Linked DNA regions of Homo sapiens. The protein of the gene in region 5 interacts with the protein of the main gene of each other region in a pairwise test. Each region holds a gene or a part of one and is shown on either strand. Other genes may lie near its edges.

Evidence for each region.
Region 1: the proteins of LHX2 (region 5) and BEND2 interact in binary tests that used the Homo sapiens proteins (3 or more experiments, as listed by UniProt).
Region 2: the proteins of LHX2 (region 5) and ANKS1A interact in a two-hybrid assay, tested with the Homo sapiens proteins (one large-scale study listed by BioGRID).
Region 3: the proteins of LHX2 (region 5) and KHK interact in binary tests that used the Homo sapiens proteins (3 or more experiments, as listed by UniProt).
Region 4: the proteins of LHX2 (region 5) and MORN3 interact in binary tests that used the Homo sapiens proteins (3 or more experiments, as listed by UniProt).
Region 6: the proteins of LHX2 (region 5) and FLYWCH1 interact in binary tests that used the Homo sapiens proteins (3 or more experiments, as listed by UniProt).

What each region holds. Positions count from the first base shown.
Region 1 is NC_000023.11:18,200,387-18,203,886, reverse strand, and holds part of BEND2 (BEN domain-containing protein 2), read left to right. Parts: coding exon 1-386; intron 387-1,946; coding exon 1,947-2,072; intron 2,073-3,500.
Region 2 is NC_000006.12:35,011,255-35,014,754, reverse strand, and holds part of ANKS1A (ankyrin repeat and SAM domain-containing protein 1A), read right to left. Parts: intron 1-3,500. UniProt on the Homo sapiens protein: Regulator of different signaling pathways. Regulates EPHA8 receptor tyrosine kinase signaling to control cell migration and neurite retraction.
Region 3 is NC_000002.12:27,089,772-27,093,271, forward strand, and holds part of KHK (ketohexokinase), read left to right. Parts: intron 1-2,560; coding exon 2,561-2,677; intron 2,678-3,500. UniProt on the Homo sapiens protein: Catalyzes the phosphorylation of the ketose sugar fructose to fructose-1-phosphate.
Region 4 is NC_000012.12:121,650,449-121,652,654, forward strand, and holds part of MORN3 (MORN repeat-containing protein 3), read right to left. Parts: intron 1,197-2,206; 3' UTR 1-1,196. UniProt on the Homo sapiens protein: Assembles a suppression complex (suppresome) by tethering SIRT1 and MDM2 to regulate composite modifications of p53/TP53.
Region 5 is NC_000009.12:124,031,285-124,033,801, forward strand, and holds the end of LHX2 (LIM/homeobox protein Lhx2), read left to right. Parts: intron 1-1,135; coding exon 1,136-1,423; 3' UTR 1,424-2,017; downstream 2,018-2,517. UniProt on the Homo sapiens protein: Acts as a transcriptional activator. Stimulates the promoter of the alpha-glycoprotein gene. Transcriptional regulatory protein involved in the control of cell differentiation in developing lymphoid and neural cell types.
Region 6 is NC_000016.10:2,942,931-2,946,430, reverse strand, and holds part of FLYWCH1 (FLYWCH-type zinc finger-containing protein 1), read right to left. Parts: intron 3,105-3,500; exon of another isoform or gene 2,947-3,104; intron 1-2,946. UniProt on the Homo sapiens protein: Transcription cofactor. Negatively regulates transcription activation by catenin beta-1 CTNNB1, perhaps acting by competing with TCF4 for CTNNB1 binding. May play a role in DNA-damage response signaling.

The DNA.
Region 1 (3,500 bases), on a different chromosome or scaffold from region 5:
AAGGCAGGAAACCCATGCCTGGGCCAGCCCTGCTGTAACATCTCTTGAGTCAGCAGCATGTCATGAACTGCAGGAAGCAGACCTCAGTGAGAGTTTATCATATCCCAGAATTGTCTCCTCAAGTTCATTACAGCAGTATGTCGCACAAGGTGGCTCATTTCCTTGTTTCGGTATGCCATGGAACTTTATCAGTGGAGGTGCTGAAAGTACCAATGCTGTCATCTCATTTGCCAATGCTACTACAGCAGTACCTATGGCAGTTCTGTCACGAAGAGAATCCAGTCTGGCAAATAACCCTGGTGTGGTGAATTACTCTGCTCTACCAGAAAATGAAAATGTGGGCCCAGGTAGAGCCTTGTCATCTTTCTGCTTCCATCCCAATTTGGGTGAGTTTGAAATGACACATATTACAGATAGCATTCTTCAATCTAGATTTTAAAACACCCTTCATGCAAATTAGTGTTAGTTATTTTTTAAATTAAAAGTTTTATCTTGAAGCCATTATAGATTCATATGTAGTTGTAAGAAATAATACAGAGAGATACCCTTTCCCCAATTTTCCCCAGTGGTAACATCTCATAAGACTGTAGTTTGTATTCATTTGTGTGTCTGACTTTCGGCTTTTTTTTTTAAAACAATTTTATCAGATGAGAAAGTTTGTATGTTCCTACCATAGTCAAGATACAGAACCGTTCTATCACCAGAAAGTTTGCTTGTCTTGCCTTTCTATAACCAAACCCATCCTCCTTTTCCTTCCCCCACTTACCTATTCCTAACCTTTGGCAAGTGTGATCTCTTCTCCATCTCTATAATTTTGTCACTTCAATATTGTTATATAATTGGATGCATATAGTATGTAACCTTTTGGTACTGGCTTTTTTTTACTCAACATAATCCCCTGGAGACTCAACCAAGTTGTGTGTTTCAGTAGTTCCTTTATTGCCAAGTACTATTCCATGGTATAGGTGTGCCATGGTTTAACCATTCATCTATTGAAGGAAATTATTTTTCCAGTTTTTGACTATTAGTAGTAAGGCTGCTATGAAAATTCATATACAAGTTTTTGTGTAAATGGAAGTTTTCATTTCTCTGACATGATTACCCAAGAGTGCAACTGCTGGTTATATATTAATTGCATGTTTAGGTTTTTTTAAAAAAACAAATCTTTATTGAGATATTAATGTCTTGGTCTGTTTGTGTTACTATAACAAAATACCATAGACTGGGTGATTGAAAAAGAACAGAAATGTAGTTTCTCACAGCTCCAGAGGCTGGGAAGTTCAAAAGCAAGGTGCCAGCCGGTTTGTGTGGTGAGGGCTGCATCCTCTGCAAGAGAGGAGCACTGTGTCCTCACATGGCAGAAGGTAGAAGGACAAGATTTCAAAATGCCGTGTGAAGCCTCTTTTATAAGGGCCTCCATCCCATTCATGAGGGAGGAGCCCTCATAGCTTAATCATCTTAAAGGTCCCATTTCTTAATACGATCACATTGGCAACACCTGAATTTTGGAAAGGATACCTTCAAACCATAGTAATTGATAAGTAAAAAACTGCACATATTTATTATACCCAATGTAATGAGTTTGGACATATGCATGTTTAGTTTTATGAGAAACTGCCTAACTATTTTCCAGGGGCGCTGTATCATCTGACATTCTTGCCAGCTATATATGGGTGATCTACTTTCTCTAAATGCATATTTCTGCTCTTTCTTTTGTTCTTTCTTCCTGATGCTCCAAGATTCCTTCTTTCATCATCTTCTTTTTTTGATTGAGGAGTTTTCTTTAACCTTTCTTTAAGGGTAAGTCTGCTGGGGACAAATTCTTTTTGTTTTCCTTTGTGTGTGAATGTCTGTTTCTCTTTCTTTCTTGAAGGATAATTTTGCTTTGTATAGAATTTGTGGGTGAAGTTCTTGTATTACAGCTCTTGAAAACTTTTTATTTACAGAAATGCCAGAAAGACCAGCAAACAGCAGTAAAAACAGCACTGAGACAGCGAATTATCCAACTTTAATGGGAAATTACAATGGCCAAAATACTGCCTCTTTATCTGTCTTCATCCCTCCCTATTTTGGTGAGTTTGAAATGATACATAATGCTGGGCGTGGTGGCTCACACTTGTAATCCCAGCACTTTGGGAGGGTGAGGCGGGTGCATCACCTGACATCAGAAGTTTGAGACCAGCCTGACCAACATGGTGAAAACCCGTCTCTACTAAAAATACAAAAAATTAGCCGGGTGTGGTGGCGGGCACCTGTAATCCCAGCTACTCCGGAGGCCGAGGCAGGAGAATCACTTGAACCCAGAGGCAGAGGTTGCAGTGAGCTGGGATCATGCCACTTAACTCCAGCCTGGGCAACAAGAGCGAAACTCCATCTCAAAATAAATAAATACATAAATACATAAAAAAGAAATGATACATATTGCAAATAGCATTATTTAACCTTGATCCACCAGTTTTTTTTTTTTTGTTTTTTTTTTTTTTTTTTTTTGAGATGGAGTTTTGCTCTTGTTGCCCAGGCTGGAGTACAATGGTGCGATCTCGGCTCACTGCAACCTCCGCCTCCTGGGTTCAAGTGATTCTCCTACCTCAGCCTCCCAAGTAGCTGGGATTATAGGCATGCACCACCACGCCTGGCTAATTTTTTTGTATTTTTAGTAGAGACGAGGTTTCTCCATGTTGGTCAGGCTGGTCTCCAACTCTCAACCTCGGGTGATCTGTCCGCCTCTGCCTCCCAAAGTGCTGGGATTATAGGCGTGAGCCACTGCGCCCAGCCTGATTCACCAGTATTTTTAATGTCAGCTAGTGTGACTCTTTTCAAACTAAACTTTTCGGTTTGAGATAATTTTAGATTCACACACAGTTGTAAGAAATAATGCAGAGAACTGTTTATGCTTTAGCCATTTCCCCCAAAGGATGACATCTTTAAAACTATAGTAAAATATCACATCCAAGGTAGTGGCATTGATACACTCCACAGATCTTACTGAGATGTTCCCAGGTTTACTTGTAATTAATTTGTGTGTGTGTATTTAGTTCTTTGCAGTTTTATCACAAGTAGTTTTAATGTCTACCTCCAGTGAAGACATAGAACGTTTCTATCACTGCAATGATGCCTCATCTTGCCCTTTGATAATCACATTCACTTTCCTCATGTCATCCTTTCCTTCCAACCTGCCCCATCCCTAACACCTGGTAACTACTGATCTGTTCTCTGTTTATAATTTTGTCACTTCAAGAATGTTATATTAAGGGAATGTTACAGTATGTAATTTTGGGGTATTGGTGTTTTTCACTCAGTATAGTTATCTGAAAACTCACCCAGCTTGTTGCATGTATCAAGAGTTCCCTCCTTTCTTTTCTTCTTTTTTTTTTTTTTTTTTTTGAGACAGAGTCTTACTCTGTTGCCCAGGCTGGAATGCAGTGGCGCGATCTTGGCTTACTGCAACTTCTGCCTCCCGGGTTCAAGCAATTCTCATGCCTCAGCCTCCTGAATAGCTA
Region 2 (3,500 bases), on a different chromosome or scaffold from region 5:
GTAAAAGGAGCACAGGCTTCTACTGCTTTGTATCAACTTCCAGCTTCATATTTAACAACTGGGAGCTAAGGCACCAACAATGAAAGGAAACACCACAGCTCAGAACTGGGGGCCAGCCTGGCTCACACTGCCTGGGTGGACCTCAGAACCCAGGCCACAGAGAATGTTCTAACTGCTGCTGTGGGAGCCAACAATGCAGGCCCTGTGAAACAGCCACCCATTCATGCTAGCTATCAATGATGAAAGAGAGACAGATGCCAAGGGCTCAATACCAGACACATGCCAAGGGGAAGGAAGTGGGTAGAAGGAAAGAATGGAAACTTACGGAGGAAGGAAATATGTGGAGGAAGAATCTCTGAGGGTCATAATCCTATTAGAGAAACCACAATCCACCAATATTTTGTGGAATATAAGAAATGATGGAAAGAAATTCTTATAATCATATGACTTAGCCAGGCAATTCCTAAGAAAGACACTTTGGTATCTGAAAAGCTTGCCGAGATCCAAGACCCTAAGGCTGGTGTTCTTGTTCCCATTAAAAACTACATCCAAGGCCAAGATGAGTTTTTTTTGGCAGATCAATGGGTGGGAAAAGAATTACTCAATGGTTTCTTCCTTCTGCAAAGTAAGGATAATATAAGGTCTCTTAGGGACAAGGTGCTAACAATAGAATATACTGATCAAGAAGCAGTTTTTAAGCAAATCACTTCTTTGTGCAATTCTGGGATCTTAATTGGGGGATTGTTGCGGTAATTAAATTATACGTGTAATGCATTAAGAACCGTGTCTAGCACATGCCACGCTCTCAATAGATGTTGAAATTGTTATTATCCTCCACACAGGGTCCGTTACAACACACTTTGCTCACAGATGAGACCAACTACTTCTCCGTTCCTCACAGGTCTGTCACAAGGATCATCAAAGATAAGGTACATGAAAGTACTCTGTAAGATATAAAGCACTTCACAAGCATTCATTACCTTCACCATCCTTATAACTCTGAACAGCAGAAGGAAGGGACAGAAGGTAATATGGTGAGAGGGCTGAAGTGAGAAACTCTGAGACAGGCCCCAGAACTGTCACTGTAACCACTCATCCCATGGACAAATGTATGAAGTGTCTGTCCTCAGGAGGCACCCAGGTGGATATGAGGATAAAGAGGCCGGGTGTGGTGGCTCACGCCTGTAATCCCAACGCTTTGGGAGCCTGTGGTGGGAGGATTGCTTGAGCTCAGGAGTTCAAGATCAGCTTGGGCAACATGGCGAGACCTCATCTCTATAAACAATTTAAAAATTAGCTGGGTGTGGTGGTGCACACCTGCTGTCCCAGCTACTTGGGAGGTTGAGATGGGAGGATAATTTGAGTCCAGGAATTCAAGGCTGCAGTGAGCTGTGATCATGCCACTGCACTCCAGCCTGGGAGACACAGCGAGACCTTGTCTCACCAAAAAATAAAAAATAAAAAAAATAAAGACACCAAGTCTGCCTCAATAGATGCTTTAAGACAGGCATAAATCATATGCTTGGCAGACAAAAAGGAAAGCCTGATTACTTCGAACCAGAAGGCTTCTCAGAAGAGGTAGCTTTCGAGCTGAGCACTGAAGGAGAAATAAGACCTTGTCAGGCTTACAGAGAAGTAAAAATACATTAGAAAAGGCAGAGAAGGGCCAGGTGTGGCAGTACATGCCTGTAATCCCAGCACTTTGGGAGGCTGAGAGAGGAGGATCACTTGAGCTCAGGAGTTAGAGACCACCCTGGGCAACAAACCTCACGCCCAGGGACTAGTGAAGTTGCAGAAGAGACCCTTAGGCCTTTCTCCTACACTACTTCCCATGTTCCCCGAGCTCTGCCCTCCCCACAGTCTGCCCTTCTAGGAGAGAAACAAGGAGATAGTGGCACACAGGGAGGGAGGCCTGTTTCTTATGCTACCCATACATCGAGGCCAGCTGTTCTACTCAATATGGCACACCAGCATGCTAATTCCCAATCCCATCAACTTGTGATCCTCATTCATTTTCCTTATACCCTGTGAGCTACTGAAGCAAGGGGTCTTCTGTGCTGCATTTTAATTACTACGATGAGCTATGGGATCTCAAGGGCTTTTGAATAATAACACTTCAACATTTACACATTTTCATTCACCTCTGCCCACTTAAATTAAGGCTAAAGAATGCAGCTCATGTGAGGAGTTGCTAATTCAAATCTCCCCTCAGGCCCAGAGAAGAAGGCTGGGGGACCCAGTGTCTCATATTGTTTTGTGTTCTCCGTATCATTAGGATTGGAATCCTCCAGCTGCCTAGTCACTATAGTGAGCATCAAAAACCATGGGTGTGCAGGAGAACTCCCAAGTACATGGCTGCTTTCAGAGGGTCACCAGGCTCTTCCTGGAAGGAAGGTCCTGACCAAGTTATTCAGACACTTGCTGAAGACTGCAATTTGATAAGACAAATAGACTGAGAGTTCATTTTGGTCCACGGCAACCTGAGAAATAGAATAAGAGCTAGACAGGGATTCAAGAAGCCCATGTTTTAGTTCCAGCCCCGTGACTTTTCCTCTCTAGGTCTCTTTCAAAAAATGAATGCCTGGGATGCATTCTCCAGGGCTTTGGGATTTAGGCTAGTTTGAATCTGTGATTAAAGGACCTCTCTATAGTCCCTACCAGTTCTATGATGTTAAGAACATGAATAGCAGAAAGGCTTTTGATGAAATGGTTTTAGCCTCATGGTTAAAAGTACAGGCTTTGGATTCAGTCACACTAGGGTTTAAGTCTCAGCTCCAATACCTAACCTTTTCTTCCTCAGCTCTGAAACAGGGACAAAAATAGCCCCTACCCTGAAGATCTGTCACAAGATATACAATGACATAATCAACATAAAGGAAATCAGCATGGCAGCTGGCCCGTGGGAAGCATTCAGTAAATGATAGCTGCTATCATTATCACCATTTTTCATTTACAGTCATTTCTGAACTCTTAGCTCATCATGCTAACACTGCACAGAGAGGCTGGTTTCCCTTCTCCTGACTCTGCAAAGGAGACTGATTTATTCTGAGTAGCCCTTTTAAAGAGGCAGAATAAAACTCAAATGCCAGGGAAGGCCAGTATTCTTATAAGTTTGGTTTGGGATTACATGTAATAGCACAGTGGAGAATCTTCAGATTAGGAGCCATCTGTACTCACCTTGGGGCCCATAGGTATAGCCCAGCTTTGGGACTTCGGACTGTTTCACATTGACTTGGTCTTGATTACCTCATTACATCTCCCCCTTCTTCTTGAACTCCTAAAGCGTCTGTTCTCTACCTGTCATTGGACCTCTGACCTCTGGCCCCCAAACTTCCCTAGTTTTCAATATACCAGCTTTGCCTGGATCAGCTTCCAACCAGCCACGATTTCTAACCATGCCTAATTTAATAGCATATTTGCTGTCTTTGCTCCCCTTGATCTTCTGCCAGTTCTTGTAGTGGGTATTCATAGCCATTTGCTTTCTCTTCTCCAGTTGCTGG
Region 3 (3,500 bases), on a different chromosome or scaffold from region 5:
CCTAGGGTCTCTGTGCTTGACAGGCAGTTGGGGACTCTTGGGAGCCGCCACCTGGAGCTCAGCCAGACCCCTGGGACGTGTCCTTTTTTTTATTTTTTGAGTTGGAGTTTTGCTCTTGTTGCCCAGGCTGGAGTGCAATGGTGCGATCTTGGCTCACTGCAACCTCCGCCTCCAGAGTTCAAGCAATTCTCCTGCCTCAGCATCCCGAGTAGCTGGGATTACAGGCATGTGCCACCACACCCAACTAATTTTGTACTTTCAGTAGAGATGGGGTTTCTCCATGTTGGTCAGGATGGTCTCGAACTCCCGACGTCAGGCGATCCGCCTGCCTCAGCCTCCCAAAGTGCTGGGATTACAGGCGTGAGCCACCGCGCCCAGCCTTTAGCTGAGCATTTCTGCACAGGAAATATCAGTGTGACTTTGAAGGGTTTCCCCAGAGTAAAATTCTATATCCTTTCTTAGAAACCTCAATGCTTGGGCCTAACAACTTTTAGTTTTAAAATACGGAGTAATTAGCAATGGCTTTGGGGTCAGGAAATTGGGTTCCCACATCAGCTTTGTCCTTAACTATTGATCAAGTCAGATCCCTCGAGATTCCTCCTTTTTTTTCATATCTTTTCGTAAAAATTTCTGTAAAGCTGTAAAGCTCAGCTTGAAAATCTTTTTTTTCTTTTTTCTTTCTTTTTTTTTTTTTTTTTTTGGAGACAAAGTCTTACTCTGTCACCCAGGCTGGAGTGCAGTGGCATGATCTTGGCTCACTGCAACCTCTGCCTCCCGGGTTCAAAAGATTCTCCTGCCTCAGCCTCCCGAGTAGCAGGGATTACAGGCACCTGCCACCACACCCGGCTCATTTTTGTATTTTTAGTAGAGACAGGGTTTCAACATCTTGGCCAGGCTGGTCTTGAACTCCTGACCTCGTGATCCACCCGCCTCAGCCTCCCAAAGTGCTGAGATTATGGGCGTGAGCCACTGCGCCCGGCCAGCTTGAAAATCTTTGACCAGCTGGGTGCAGTGGCTCATACCTATAATCCCAGCACTTTGGGAGGCCAAGGCAGGAGGATCGCTTGAGCCGAGGAGTTCGGGACCAGCCTGGGCAACATAAGAAGATGCCATCTCTACGAAAAAATTTTTTAAATTAGCGGGGCATGGTGATGCACACCTATAATCCCAGCTACTTGGGAGACTAAGGTGGGAGGATCAGTTGAGCTGGGGAAGTTGAGGCTGCAGTGAACCATGATCATGCCATTGCACTCCAGCCTGGGTGACAGAGTGACTCTGTCTCAAAAAAACAAAAAAATTACTATCCTTTGTCATTGTTGTTATTGTTGTTTTTGAGACAGGATCTCACTCTGCCACCCAGGCTGGAGTGCAGTATCATGGCTCACCCCAGCCTAAACCTCCCGGGCTCATACGCTCCCCCAACTTCAGCCTCCTGAGTAGCTGGGACCACGGGTATGCACCACCATACCCAGCTAATTTTTAATTTTTTTTTTTTTTTTAGAGACAAGAGCTCCCTTTGGTTGCCCAGGCTGGTCTCGAACTTCTGGGCTCAAGTGATCCTCCTGCTTTGGCCTCCCAAAGTGCTGGGATTATAGGCATAAGCCACTGTGCCTGTCCTACTATCATTTTTTTTCTAATGACATCGTGCTCCCCTTTTCCCAAAACTGAAGTTTCGCGTACAAATATGCTTTGGCCTAAAAATTCTGGTTCGGTTTTTTCTCTTAATTCGTGGTTCTTTGGTACTGTTCCTTTTATTGTAAACTGCCACAATTATTATTATTATTGGAACTGGCACAATAGAAATAACACCACCATTCTTACCTCAAAGGTAATAACATTCATTAATGATTTCTCATTTGGGCTCCAGTAACACTGTGAGGGGATCAGTGCGTTGACCCTCTATGTGGAAGTTATCATTTTTGCTGCTGATGACAATGAAGCCCTTCACGTGTGTCTTGTTAGTTTCCTTTTGGTTGGTTTTTAGTAAAGATGGAGAAGTGCTCCCTGCTGCCACTTCTTAAACGACCAACGTCCAGGTTTGCTGTCCTGTCTTACTCGTTTGATTTTATAGCTCTGCAGTTTCTATTGAAGTAGACACTCCTAACACAGGGGTAGGTGTAAATGTGATACCTTTGGGAAGAGGCACTTAGTCCCCGAGGTCCTTGGAGTTGCTCCAGCTCTCAAGGAGGAGGCCAAAGGTGCAGCGTCTGGAGCAGCTCTGACTGGGGTGAAAGGTGAGGAGGAGATGACCTGGAGTTAGTGGGTCTCTCGAATAGTGATGGACCCAAGTGAGTGGTTTCCTGTTGCCCTAGGAACAGATGGAAATATTGAAAGGAACTGCTGTCAGCTTGAATTTAGCCTGGGCTGGGGAGGTAGACACCGCTCTCAGCCAAGCTCCTTCCCTTGGCCGGCCTCGGCTGCCCCGGGTACAAAGTGAGACGTCGGCCTAGATGCTTTCTGAGAGGAGTCCCCAGCTGTTACATTCTGTAGGCCCCTATACAGGAGACTGTGCTTGGGATCAGCCTGCTGGGGCTGCAGGGACCCTCCCTGTGCTTTGCAGGTGTTTGTCCCAGAGATGGCAGCGCGGAGGCAACGCGTCCAACTCCTGCACCGTTCTCTCCCTGCTCGGAGCCCCCTGTGCCTTCATGGGCTCAATGGCTCCTGGCCATGTTGCTGAGTAAGTCCAGGAGGGAGAGCCCACTGGGGAAGGCCTGCCTGCATCATTGTGGGAGAAGAAGGATGTATCCACCCTGGGTGGATGGGGGATTAGAAATGGGTTGTGTCCAGCAGAAACGCGGGGAGGGGGCATGGCGGAGCACCAGACGCCCAGCCCTGCCTTGGCGTGGCCTCTCTGCGGTTCGGGGGCTGATGCTGCCCCTGTGAAGCTTTCCTTGCCACAGCTTGTTTCCTGGACACTTCTGGAGCCTGCTTCAGCCTCTTCCTTTCTCCTTCCTTGCTTCCTGCAGACTCTGCGGTGGATGTGCCTTTGCCTTATCTTAAGTCCCTTATCCTGGCCATGCTTGAGGCAGAAGGCAGTTAGGGACACGTGGTACCCATCCTCCCCCAGGTCCAGGCCCACAGTTTCTGTCCCAGTTGAGAGGCAGGGCTGGTGCTCATGTCCCTGTTGTTCACTGAAGCAGTGAGAGTACCCTGTTCAAGGACACCCTGAAGCCACATGCTAAAGCTGGGCTCAGAACCCACACCTCCCAGTTCCCCGGCTGTCAGGGCTATAGCCCTAAATGGCTCATGCACGCCCTCCATGTTGGCTGCTGCAGGGACCTCAGAGCCCTTTGACCCCTGGCGCTGCCGACTCAGCAAGCACTTATCGGGAGGTGAGGCCCACACTTTGCACACTGTGGGCACGGGGGCAGGCTGCCAGGTTGCTGGCCTGTGAAGGGCAGCCCTTTGAACCCTGGTTTGAAGGGGGCTGCTGGCAGAGTCCAACCACCTGAGCTACAGCCAAACTCCCTGCCTTGATGAACTGGCAGGAAGAGAATAGA
Region 4 (2,206 bases), on a different chromosome or scaffold from region 5:
CAGGGAGGCGAGGTTGCAGTGAGCCGAGATTGTGCCACTGCACTCCAGCCTGGGTGACAGAGCAAGACTCTGTCTCAAAAAAAAAAAAAAAAAAAAAAAAAAGGCCAGGCTCGATGGCTCACACCTGTAATCCCAGCACTTTAGGAGACTGAGCGGGGCAGATCACGAGGTCAGGAGTTCAAGACCAGCCTGACCAACATGGTGATACCCCATCTCTACTAAAAATACAAAAATTAGCTGGGCTCAGTGGCATGCGCCTGTAATCCCAGCTACTCAGGAGGCTGAGGTAGGAGAATCGCTTGAACATGGGAGGCAGAGGTTGCAGTGAGCTGAGATCGCGCCACTGCATTCCAGCCTGGGCAATAGAGGGAGACTACGTCTTAAAAAAAAAAAATCACCTGGGGAATTTTCTGAAAGCTCAGGCCTCACCCCAGATGAATTAGATGTGAACCTGTGAATCTCTGGGCATGGGACCTGGGCTTCCACAGCTTTGCAAAGTTTCCATGGGATTTCAAGGTTGAGAGCCCTGTGTTAGGCTGAGAAGTGGTCAGGAAATTTTATGATCTCCAATCTTGGCAGCCAGTGTGGCAGGATACAGGCCTTCTCTCTGGGTCATCTGGGTTATCTCACAGGGGACCTGCCATTTCTTTCTCTTTTTCTTTTCCTTTCTTTTATATTTTAAAATTTTTTTTTGTAGAGTCAGGGTCTTGCTATGTTGCCTAAGCTGGTCTCGAACTCCTGGCCTCAGGCAGTCCTCTTACCTTGGCCTCCCAAGTTCTGGGATTACAGGAATGAGCCACTGCACCCGGCCTAAGACCTGCCCTTACTCCCCCAAGCTAAACCCAGGCAGCCCAGCCAAGGCAGGTCTTCCCTCTTCTAAACCTGAAAGCCCTGCTGAGCCCCCTCGAGTGCCCCATCCTTATCCCATAGGCCCAGGCTTATACCACTTGGTTATTCTTTATTCTCATGCATTCCAGGATGAGATCAGAGAATGAAGAGGGTCCCGAGGACAGCCTGGGAGAGAAGCACCAGCCTTCCTATTGGCAAGAAATGACCCAGTGCTGGGGGTAGTGAGGGGCCCTATGAGGGTGCCGGGGTCATGCCTGGAGCTGCTGCTGACTCCTCCAGCCAGAGCCGCACTGGTCTGAGCGATCGGGTGACACAGGCTTGAATTTCTCCTGAAGCGTTTGTGTTCTCTGCAGGGGAGAGAGGGATGGTGGAGCTGGCATTTGAAAGACGCTGTTACCAATGTCCTCTCCTCAAACCCTCACATCATGCCCAGGAGGACTTGGACTGGACAAGACCCCACTGGACAGATGTGTAAATGGAGGCTGAAGGCCAACTGCCTTACTCAAGGGTGTTCAGAAGCCAGGAGACCACCTCCTTTCAACCCCGTGCCCAGCTCAGTTGTGTGGCCCAGGGTGCAAATAGAAGGTTTCAGGCAGGACTGGAATGCACTGGTCTTCAGTGAAATGGTTTGTTTGTTTGTTTATTTGTTTGTTTGTTTGTTTTTTGAGACACAGTCTCACCCAGACTGGAGTGCAGTGGCACAGTCTCAGCTCACTGCAACCTCTGCCTCCCAGGTTCAAGCAATTCTCTGCCTCAGCCTCCTGAGTAGCTGGAATTACAGGTGCCCTCCCCCACGCCCAGCTAATTTTTGTGTTTTTAGTACAGATGGGGTTTCACCATCTTGGCCAAGCTAGTCTTGAACTCCTGACCTCGTGATCCACCCACCTCGGCCTCCCAAAGTGCTGGGATTACAGGATTATAGGATTACTGTGCCTGGCGAGTTTTGTTTTTTTTGAGACAGAGTCCCATTCTGTCGCCCAGGCTGGAGTGCAGTGGTGCAATCTCAGCTCACTGCAACCTTCACCTCCCGGGTTCAAGTGATTCCCCTGCCTCAGCCTCTCGAGTAGCTGGGACTACAGGTGCCTGCCACCACACCTGGCTAACTTTTATATTTTTAGTAGAGATGGGGTTTCACCATGTTGGCCAGGCTGGTCTCAAATTCCTGACCTCAACTTATCCGCCTGCCTTGGCCTCCCAAAGTGCTGGGATTAAAGGCAAGAGCCACCACAGCCGGTCAAAAGGGGTTTTGAAGAGGAAGCGTCAAAAAGGACACCTGGGACTGTAGGAGGCAAGAAGCCTGCCCTCGATGGTCTTGCTCCCCCACTCCCCGACCCCAAGCCCTTTGGAGACCCCAGGA
Region 5 (2,517 bases):
AGGTTCCGTGTCTTTCACTTCCTCTTAGTAACTCATTATTATTGCCTGATTCTCATGTGTTCTTTATCGCATTCCCAGACTTACTGACCACAAAACATTTAAAACATTTTACCAACAAGAACTTGTGGGGTTTATTGTCTGCTGAAAGGCAACTGCCAAAAAAGGAAAAAGAAAAAAAAAAAAGGAATGTCTCAAAGAACCATTAGGAAAAGGATCAAGATTTGTCTGGTGTGTGTGTTTGGTGTGTCTGATAGAAATGCAACATGAGGCACACATTTAATTTTAAGTTTTAAATGTCCTAGTAGCCTCCTTGAAGAAATGAAGAGAGACAAGTAAAAGTAAAATTAATTTTAATAATGTATTTTGCTTAACTCAGTATAGCCAAACTATTAATCATTTCGACATGTAATCAATATAAAAATTATTGAGATATTCTACCTGCTTTTTTTTTCATATTCAGCCTTCAGATAGGTTGTGTGTTTTCACCTGCAGACTGGTTGAATTTGGGCTAATGCCATTTTAAGTGCTCAGCAGCCATACGTGGCTCGTGGCTGTGATATTCGGGAGTACAGCTCAGCTCTGGAACCACCTATCAGAAAGAGAAGCCCAGCCGTAGCCCATTAGATAGAGTGAAATTTTTGTTTTATTTTATTAAGAGCAAAATATTGGCCAGGTGCAGTGGCTCACATCTGTAATCCCAACGCTTTAGGAGGCTGAGGCAGGAGGGATCACTTGAAGCCTGGAGTTTGAGACCAGCCTGGTCAACATTGCAAGACCCCGTCTCTACAAAAAATAACTTAAAAAGTTAGCGGGGCCGGTGGTGCTCACCTATCTATAGCCCCAGCTACCCAGGAGGCTGAGGCGGGAGGATCGCTTGATCCCAGGAGTTAGAAGCTGCAGTGAGTCGAGATTGTGTCACTGCACTTCAGCCTGGGGGACCAAGCCAGACCCTGTCTGCAAACAAAAACAAAAACAAAAAAACCAAAAAAGCAAAATATTGCCAACCTGACTTTTTGGATCCTCTTGGCAAAACACAGATCAGCGTCCCCAGAGGCAGCAGAGCTCTGAGTGAAGCAGTCGGGGGGATGCTCTGCCTGCCTTCCGCTCACCAGCCCTTCCCTGTCGTCCCCCGCAGGTCTGGTTCCAGAACGCCCGAGCCAAGTTCAGGCGCAACCTCTTACGGCAGGAAAACACGGGCGTGGACAAGTCGACAGACGCGGCGCTGCAGACAGGGACGCCATCGGGCCCGGCCTCGGAGCTCTCCAACGCCTCGCTCAGCCCCTCCAGCACGCCCACCACCCTGACAGACTTGACTAGCCCCACCCTGCCAACTGTGACGTCCGTCTTAACTTCTGTGCCTGGCAACCTGGAGGGCCATGAGCCTCACAGCCCCTCACAAACGACTCTTACCAACCTTTTCTAATGACTCGCAACCCCTCACCCCACAATTTCTTTAAAAAAGAAATTATCTTTAGTTGAATTCCAAGTGTATTTTAAAATAGAGGCTTTGAGCAACTAACTAACCACATTTTAGGATCTCGCCTGGAAACAGAGGTAAAAAAAAGAAGTGTGCGCCCGGCTAATGCAGCGGTGTGGACCGAGGAACAACTTGGAAGATCTACCTGCAACACAACATTTGTGTCACTGTACAGTTTTGTGGACTGAGCGAGGAAAAACAACAAATAATTTAAGTTGGCTAGAGCTTCTGTATTTTCAAAGACTGCCACGTGCCTTAGGAATACTGTTTTATCTCCATACTTTGGATGACTTGTTCATTTTTCTCTCCCTCTTTTTCTCTGTATATTTATGACCAGAGCAAAAATGTAAAAAACAAAAAAAACAACAAAAAAAGTTTGTTACTTTGAATAGTCCTAAAAAGAAAAAAAGAAAAAAAAAAAAGGAAAAATCAAACCCCCTCCAACGGTCGCTTTGTTGTTTTAGAATTTTAAGGTGGAAGTCTGTTCGAATATCAGAATTTGTAAAATCTAACCAGTAATAAAACCACTTATTGAAACTACTTGGGGCTGCTGCCATTTGGTTGGGTGTGAAATTGACAGGACCTAAGAGTTTTACTGAGGCCCAGAGATCAATTCTAGGTCTTCACATATTCATCAGATATTCCTGGGGCTCCTGTCTTGTGCCAGGCTTTGGACGGATTACAGAGATGCCGAGACAAAGATCCAATTCCTGCTCTCAAGGAATCAGAATGGTGACACGGGACAGACAAAAGATATCTTAACAGGGTGTGATATGTGCTCAAGTGGAGGATATGCAACATCCCATTCATTCATTCATTCATTATTCATTCATTCATTCTTTCAAATATTTAATGAGCACACCCTGCCAGATGCTTGTGATGCAGAGGTCAGAGGCCCTTTTCTGCTCCTGGCTGGGCTGGAAAGAAGGCATGTCAGGCGATGAGGGAGGCCTCCTGAAAAACCTGCAGCTTTTCCCTACGAGGAGTGAACGCAGTTAACAAAGGGCAGCTTAAGCTCCAGTTTTCCTAATGACACAAAA
Region 6 (3,500 bases), on a different chromosome or scaffold from region 5:
AGAATCGCTTGAACCTGGGAGGCGGAGGTTGCAGTGAGCCGAGATCTCACCACTGCAGTCCAGCCTGGGGGACAGAACGAGACTCCATCTCAAAAAAAAAAAAAAAAAAAAAAAGTACAGCCCACCTATACAGGGCATGAATTATGAATGGAGCTTGCAGGGTGGGAAGTTGCTGTGGGTGGGTGAGTGAACGTGGAGGCCTAAAGCATTAGTGTATGTCCTGCACACTTAGTATACAACACTCAACACTCAGGCTACACTCATTTTTAAACACTTTCTTCAGTAATAAATTAACCTAAGCTTACTGTAACTTGATGTTTAAACTTTTTGCTTTTTTTAATTACACTCAGTTTAAAACACAAATACATTGTACAGCTGTACAAAAATATTTTCTTTAGAACCTCATTCTACAAGCTTTTATTTATTTATTTTTTGACATGGAGTCTCGCTCTGTTGCCCAGGCTGGAGTGCAGTGTCGCAATCTCGGCTCACTGCAAGCTCTGCCTCCCGGGTTCACGCCATTCTCCTGCCTCAGCCTCCCGAGTAACTGGGACTACAGGCACCTGCCACCACGCTCGGCTAATTTTTTGTATTTTTAGTAGAGATGGGATTTCACCATGTTAGCCAGGATGGTCTTGATCTCCTGATCTCATGATCTGCCCACCTTGGCCTCCCAAAGTGCTGGGATTACAGGCATGAGCCACCGCACCCGGCCTCTATAAGCTTTTATTTTTAAGGATTTTAAAATTTTTAAGTTGGACTTTAATTTTTTGAGACAGTATTTTTTTTTTTTTTTTTGAGATGTAGTCTTCCAGGCTGGAGAGCAGTGGCACGATCTCGGTGCACTGCCACGATCTCAGTGCACTGCAGCCTCAGCTTCCCAAGTAGCTGGGATTACAGGTGTGTGCCACCATGCCTGGCTAATTTTTTTTTTTTTTTTTTTTTGAGATGGAGTCTCGCTCTGCCACCAGGCTGGAATGCAGTGGCATGAATGTCGGCTCACTGCAACCTCCAACTCCCTGGTTCAAGCAATTCTCCTACCCCAGCCTCCCGAGTAGCTGGGATTACAGGCACACGCCACCACGCCCAGCTGATTTTTGTATTTTTAGTAGAGACGGGATTTTACCGTGTTAGCCCGGACGGTCTTGATCTCCTGACCTCGTGATCCGCCTGCCTCGGCCTCCCAAAGTGCTGGGATTACAGGCGTGAGCCACTGTACCTGGCTAATTTTTGTATTTTTAGTAGTAGAGATGGAGTTTCTTCACGTTGGCCAGGCTGGTTTTGAACTCCTGACCTCAAGTGATCCACCCACCTCAGCCTCCCAAAGTGCTGGGATTACAGGTGTGAGCCACCATGCCCGGCCAAGGATTTGAATTTTTTGCTTAAAAACTAAGACACACACTATCCTAGGCCTGCACAGGGTCAGGGTCATCCATGTCACCATCTTCGACCTCCACATCTTGTCCCACTGGAAGGTCTTCAGGGACAATAATACATTTAGAGCTGTCATCTCCTATGACGACAGTGCCTTCTTTTGGATACCTCCAAAAAGTCTTGAAGGACCTGCCTGAGGCCGTTTTACAGTTAAAAAAAATTTTTTTTTTTTTTTGATACAGAGTCTCACTCTGTTGCCCAGGCTGGAGGGCAGTGGCACCATCTCAGCTCACTGCAACCTCCACCTCCCAGGTTAAGCGATTCTCACGCCTCAGCCTCCCAAGTAGCTGGGATTACAGGCTGGCGCCACCATGCCTAGCTAATTTTTGTATTTTTAGTAGAGACGGGGTTTCACCATGTTTCCCAAGCTGGTCTGGAACTCCTGACCTCAGGGGATCTGCCTGCCTCAGCCTACCAAAGTGCTGGGATTATAGGTGTGAGCCAATGCTGTGGCTGGCCTACAGTTGACTTTTTAAATAAGTAGGAGTATATTCTAAAGTAATGATAAAAAGTATAGTAAATAATCTAATAACATATTTATTATCATTATCAAATATTAGGTACTATACATAATTGTATGTGATCTTTTTTTTTTTTTTTTTGAGATGGAGTTTCACTCTTGTCACCCAGGCTGGATGGAGTGCAATGGCACAATCTCGGCTCACCACAACCTCCACCTCCCAGTTTCAAGCGATTCTCCTGCCTCAGCCTCCCAAGTAGCTGGGATTACAGGTGCGCTGTACCTGTAGCCAAGCCTGGCTATTGTATTTTTAGTAGAGACGGAGTTTCTCCATGTTCCCCAGGCTGGTCTGGAATTCCTGACCTCAGGTGATCCGCCCGCCTCAGCCTCCCAGAGTGCTGGGATGACAGGTGGGAGCTGTCGTGCTCTACTTTTATTTCTGAGACAGGTTCTCTCTCCGTCCGCTGGGCTGGAGTGTAGATGCATGATCACAGCTCACTGCAGCCTCAACCTCCCAGGCTCAGGTGACACTTCCATCTCAGCCTCCGAAGTAGCTGGGCATGTACCACCACACACAGCTAATTTTTAAATTTTTTTGTAGAGACGGGATCTCACTATGTTGCCCAGGCTGGAGTGCAATGTCGTGATCTTGGCTCACTGCAACCTCCACCTCCCGGGTTCAAGTGATTCTCCTGCCTCAGCCTTCCAAGTAGCTGGGATTACGGGTGCTCGCCACCACGCCTGGCTAATTTTTTGTATTTTGAGTAGAGACAGAGTTTCACTATGTTGGCCAGGCTGGTCTCGAACGCCTGACCTCAGGTCATCCGCCCACCTCGGCCTCCCAAAGTACTGGGATTACAGGCGTGAACCCCCGCGCCTGGCCTGCTTGTGGGGGTTTTCACGGATGCTCTTGATCAGGCTGAAGAAACTCCTTTTATTCCTAGTTTGTTGAATGTTTTTATCATGAAAGCGTGTTGGAGGTTGTCAAATGTTTTGTGTCTATTCAGTGATCACACGGTTTTTGTCCTTTTCTCTACTGATCTGGTATGCAGGCATCCCCATCACACACTAGGCTTGGTGACTGCACTTGAGGGACTCACAGGACTTAGCCTACCATCATACTAGTGGCTGGGATTTACTACGGTGAAAAGATGCGACGCAGAATTAGTAACAGGAAGATGCATTTGGGGTGAGGGCCGGAGGAAACCAGGTACAAGCCCCCAGAGTCCCCTCCCCTGGGGTCCCCTCCCGCAGAATGTGCTGAATCCTCCAGCCTCGAGCTGTGACATGTGCAAAGTGTTCTCTACCAGGGAAGCCTGCCTGAGCCCAGGAGTCCAGGGTTTTCACTGGGGGTTGCTCATGTAGGTACGTTGTGCCTGCGTGACTGAATATGGTCACCGAAATGCCAGGCTCAGAAGAAAAGCAAGTGTTCAGCAAATATCACATGATTTGTATAGAAAAGAGTGAGCAGTTGTTATTTGGGGATAGTATTGTATCCACATAGGAGCTCTTTACCAGTCAAGTTCCCAGATGCCAGCTGGGCGTGGTGGCTCATGCCTGTAATCCCAGCACTTTAGGAGTCCGAGGCGGGTGGATCACTTGAGGT